Regions from separate parts of the Homo sapiens genome. Here region 2 is linked to region 1. A link means that fine-mapping ties the variant in region 1 to the expression of a gene that starts in the linked region. Tissue or cell type: whole blood. Region 1 holds a variant in brackets; the other region holds the start of a gene. All regions are shown on one strand. Distances are between the middles of the regions.

What was found. PIP is the estimated chance that this variant, and not a neighbour inherited with it, causes the effect.
Region 2: it holds the start of LPAR2, and the variant in region 1 is fine-mapped to the expression of LPAR2 in whole blood (TOPMed, PIP above 0.99).

Annotation. Positions count from the first base shown.
Region 1 is chr19:19,588,137-19,590,816 of GRCh38, reverse strand. All of the region lies in intron 2 of PBX4 (PBX homeobox 4), which reads left to right. It also overlaps the pseudogene PHF5AP1. Among named protein-coding and RNA genes, the nearest start is that of PBX4, 29 kb to the left of the region's middle. The variant A/G (reference allele first, on the strand shown) is at 1,663.
Region 2 is chr19:19,626,903-19,629,582 of GRCh38, reverse strand. LPAR2 (lysophosphatidic acid receptor 2) reads left to right here and starts at 1,363. Exons shown (of 3, transcript NM_001395660.1): 1 at 1,363-1,491; 2 at 2,299-2,680. The coding sequence starts at 2,308. GMIP (GEM interacting protein) reads left to right here. Exons shown (of 21, transcript NM_016573.4): 21 at 1-107. RefSeq lists silencers at 613-742, 1,113-1,612 and an enhancer at 53-975.

The DNA of each region.
Region 1 (2,680 bases):
ATCTGAAAACAACCTGATGTCCATGATAACTAGAAAAACAAAATGTGTGTCCAGGCGCCATGGCTCACACCTGTAATTCCAGCACTTTGGGAGGCCAAGGTGGGGGGATCATTTGAGGTCAGGGGTTCGAGACCAGCCTGGCCAACATGGTGAAACCCCGTCTCTACTAAAAATATAAAAATTAGCTGGGCGTGGTGGCATATGCCTGTAATCCCAGCTAATCGGGAGGCTGAGGCGCGAGAATCACTTGCACCTGGGAGGCGGAGGTTGCAGTGAGCGGAGATCACGCCACTGTACTCCAGCCTAGGTGACAGAGCAAGACTCTCTCTCAAAAAAAAAAAAAAAAGAAAGAAAACAAAACAAAACGTGGTCCATCCATGCAATGGAGTATTATTCAGCCATAAAGAGGAATGAAGTATTGGCACAGGCTGCAACATGGGTGCACCTTGAAAACATGATGCTGGGTAGGAGAAGCCAGATGTGAAGTGTCACATCACATGCTGTGTGATTCCATCAATATGAAGAGTCCAGATCAGGCAAATCCATAGAGACAGGAAGACTCGTGGTTGTCCCGGGGCTAGGGAGGGGGCGTAAAGAGTGACTGCTCATAGAGACGGGGTATCTTTAGGGAGGATGAGAATGTTAGCTAGTGGTGGTGGTCGCACAACCTTGGAAATAAACTAAAAACCACTGAAGTATTCACTTTAAGCAGATGAATTATATGGCATGTGAATTATATCTCAATAAAGCTTACCTCAAGGATTGAGGGTCTTTGGTAGGGGCCGTATCTAAAACAGTGTGCCTGTAGCTTAAGGCCTTAGTGCACATACACATTCTTATGAATTAGCACTTCTTTGCTGCCTCTTAGGGCTTAACCACTGACGGAAACTGTCTTGTGTGCTTGCACTTTTCTGGTTTGTCTTCTGACCTCTGACTCCTTTCCTGGAAGACCAGCATCAAGAAAGCACAAGGCAGATCTGTGGTTCATCTCTGCCCTGTTGTGGGATTGGCACACCGTAGATACTAGGGAGCTTCTTTTTTTCTTTTGAGATGGAGTCTCGCTCTGTCACCCAGGCTGGAGTGCAATCGTGCGATCTCGGCTCACTGCAACCTCCACTTCCCGGGTTCAAGCGGGTCTCCTGCCTCAGCCTCCCAAGTAGCTGGGATTACAGGTGCCCGCCACCATGCCCAACTAATTTTTGTATTTTTAGTAGAGATGGGATTTCACCGCGTTGGCCAGGCTGGTTTCGAACTCCTGACCTCAGGTAATCCACCCGCCTCGGCCTCCCAAAGTGCTGGGATTTACAGGCATGAGCCACCGTGCCTGACCAGAACTTTTTTTTCTTTCTTTTTCTTTGTCTTTAGTTATTTATTTATTTATTTTAGACAGAGTCTCGCTCAGTTGCCCAGGCTGGAGTGCAGTGGTGCAATCTCGGCTCGCTGCAAGCTCCACCTCCTGGGTTCGGGTTCATGCCATTCTCCTGCCTCCGCCTCCTGAGTAGTTGGGACTACAGGCGCCCACCACCACACTCCTCTAATTTTTTGTATTTTTAGTAGAGATGGGGTTTCATCGTGTTAGCCAGGATGGTCTCGATCTCCTGACCTCGTGATCCGCCGGCCTCGACCTCTCAACGTGCTGGGACTATAGGTGTGAGCCACCGC[A/G]CCCAGCCTCTTTTTACGTTCTTTTTTTGAGTCAAGATCTCGCTCTGTCATGCGGGTTGGAGGCACTGGTGTGATCATAGCTCACTGCTCCCTTGAATTCCCGGGCTCAAGTGATCCTCCTGCCTCAGCCTCTGGAGTAGCTGGGACTACAAGTGGGCACCACCATGCCTGGATATTTTTTTGTGGAGATGGGATCTTGCTGTGTTGCCCAGGCTGGTCTTAAACTCTTGTCCTCAAGCAATCCTCCCTTCTCAGCCTCTAAAAGTGCTGGGATTACAGGGATGAGCCAACCTGTCCAGCCCTGGTGAACTTATTGATAGATCAGTTCCTTGGGAAATTCTTTTTAGAGTAGTCAGGGCATTGGATGACCTAAAACTCTTTGATTCGCAGGCTGGGAATTGGTTGGTCATGGTTAGTGTGCATGTTGCTAGGCTGGTTACCTCCCTGTGTGAGACTCAGCCAAAGAGGCACCACACCTCATGGTGACTGTAGCCCAGCTCCTGAAGCTTCTAGACCTTTCCCCCATGGCTCTCATTTGTTGTTGTTTGAAATTAGAGCATTTCTTCAGATGAAAAAATTGGGCCACACGGTGGCTCACACCTGTAATGCCAGCACTTTCGGAGGGTGAGGCGGGTAGATCACGAGGTCAGGAGTTCGAGACCAGCCTGGCCAACATGGTGAAACCCTGTCTCTACTAAAAATACAAAAATTGTGTGGTGGCCAGCTTAGTTGGGAACTATGGCTAAACATCATCCTGATTTGATCTTTTGCCGCAAGCAGGCTGGTGTTGCCATCAGATGACTGTGTGAAAAATGTGATGGCAAATGTGTTATCTGTGACTCCTATGTGCGTCCCTGCACTCTGGTGTGCATATGTGATGAATGTAACTATGGATCTTACCGGGGCTCTGTGTGATCTGTGGAGGCCCTGGGGTCTCTGATGCCTATTATTGTAAGGAGTGCACCATCCAGGAGAAGAATAGGGATGGCTGCCTGAAGATTGTCTATTTGGGGAGCTC
Region 2 (2,680 bases), 39 kb before region 1:
CCTCCTTCACGGACTCGAAGTGACCTTCCTGGAGGAGGTGGGCAGCTCAGACTCCACATGCTGGTGGTGCCTGAGGTCTGATGGCCTCTAATAAACTGTGTCCTATATGCCCTTGGGTGCATCTCTGCTAGGGGAGAGGCCAGCATGGGTAGCACTCCTTGCCCCCATTTTACAGATTAGGGGAATCAAGGCCTCTTTTTTTTTTTTTTTTTTTTTTTTTTTTGAGACGGAGTTTTGCTCTGTCTCCAGGTTGGAGTGCAGTGGCACGATCTCCGCTCACTGCAACCTCCACCTCCCGGGTTCAAGCGATTCTCCTGCCTCAGCCTCCCGAGTAGCTGGGACTACAGGCGCCTGCCACCATGCCCGGCTAATTTTTTTGTATTTTTAGTAGAGACGGGGTTTCAGCATGTTGGCCAGGATGGTCTCGATCTCCTGATCTCGTGATCGTCCCGCATCGGCCTCCCAAAATGCAGGGATTACAGGCGTGAGCCACTGCGCCCGGCCTCAAGGCCTCCTTCTTGCATCATCAAACACCCTGCAGCACCTACGTAAAGGCAGTTGGAGCTGGGTCGCAGCACCCGGCTGAGTCACGCCAGCCCGGCCCTCCCGGAGCTCTGCGTCCCCGATCCGGTCCTGCATAATCAAATACAGTATAACAAAGTACCGATAACCGGGACAATGGGGCTGTGTGCTCCGGACCGTGGGAGCCCGGGGCCGCCGCAGGGAGGCCGAGGGAGGAAGCCACAGGGCAGGGCAGGGCAGGGCCGGGCTTTGCAGGGGGCAGCGCTGTCCCAGGGTGAGGGGTACGGGGGCGGGATTGCAAAACCCTAGCGTGCGCCCGATGATCAGCTGGGGCCGCAGAGGTGGGCCTCGCACAGGAGGCCGCGGCTCGCTGATACTGCGAGCTGGCAAAGCCGAAGCTGGGCGGGGGTCCGGGCGGTGGGAGCCAAGTCGGATCAGGGAGTGGCTTGTAACTCGGCGGCCGATTGGACACGAAGAAGAGAGCGGGGTGGGGCTGGGAGGGTTGGGGGTCCGGAGCGGGGGCGCGGACCCAAGACCACCTGGAGCTCCGCCCGGGCAGCGCGGGGTCACGGCGGGAATTTTCGGGTCGCCGAGTGACTCAGCCCCGCAGGCTCGAAACTGCGGGCGCATGAGGTGTGCAGGTACCGGGGTGGGGGTCCCGCGCCGGAAATAGGGGCGACTGAGGGGCCGCGAGGCGGGGAGGAAACAGGGGGGCTGCGGTTCCGGGCGACACCGCCCCCGACGCGGCCGTGGAGGCGGGGCTCCCCCAGGTGGCGGGGCGGGGCAGGGCTCCCCCAGGTGGTGGGGGCGGGGCGCCGGGGAGACCCCGCCTCCCGCGCCCTCTCAGCAACCCGCACAGGGCGCACCCGGACGCTCTACCGCTCCCGCCGCAGTCGCCGGGCCATGGGCCTCGAGCCCGCCCCGAACCCCCGCGAGCCCGCCTTGTCTGCGGCGTGACTGGAGGCCCAGGTGAGGCCTGCACGGACGGGAGGCGGGCGGGTGCGGGCCTGGGCCCGGGGGAAGGGCGCGGCACGTGCCTGCGGGGCCAGGACGCCGCCCTCTGATCCCTTAACCCCCTACCCCTTCCCCAGTCTGGAGACGCCTGGAGGCCCGGCCATCCATCCCTTCCCCAACCGCTGTCTTTGTCCCGGAGACCGCCAGTGTCCTCCGTCCCACCCGGAACAGCCTATTGCCCCGCCCGCTTGGGAAGCACTCGCGCCCAAATCCCGCCGACTAACTTCTGGGGCCGCCTCTCTGTCCACTCCGATCACCTCCACGCCTCGGCACCGCCCCCTCGCAGGGTTCTAGCAAGTGACCTCACCCTTGTGTGCACACGCTCCCGGGTCTCTGCTCCCTACACTGACTCCGGCACCAAAGTGATCCTCCCTCATCTCTTCCCGCAGCTCACACCCCTTTGTCTTTCCCTAACCCTCCTCTCCCCACAACCCAAACCGGGTCACACATTGGCGGCAGGTGGGCTGGGATTCGACCATAGATGGGTTTTGTTTCACTTCTGGTTCAAAAACCTATTGACTTGGGTGATGTCTTGCACACAGGTCTTATTAGTAGGTAAGAAACAGCTGCTCCTCCACCTCCACCCCAGCCCCATGGAGCTTGCTTTTTCCAGGCCACCGTAGTCCTCACCACTGCCACTTTGCTTCGAGGTATCTGAATTTGAGACCCTTGTCCTTCCTGCGCTGACCCTCCTCTGCAGCTGCCGCCCCTCCCTGTGTCCTTCCAAGAAGTGCCACATGCACTGATCTCTTGTGTCCCCAGATGGTCATCATGGGCCAGTGCTACTACAACGAGACCATCGGCTTCTTCTATAACAACAGTGGCAAAGAGCTCAGCTCCCACTGGCGGCCCAAGGATGTGGTCGTGGTGGCACTGGGGCTGACCGTCAGCGTGCTGGTGCTGCTGACCAATCTGCTGGTCATAGCAGCCATCGCCTCCAACCGCCGCTTCCACCAGCCCATCTACTACCTGCTCGGCAATCTGGCCGCGGCTGACCTCTTCGCGGGCGTGGCCTACCTCTTCCTCATGTTCCACACTGGTCCCCGCACAGCCCGACTTTCACTTGAGGGCTGGTTCCTGCGGCAGGGCTTGCTGGACACAAGCCTCACTGCGTCGGTGGCCACACTGCTGGCCATCGCCGTGG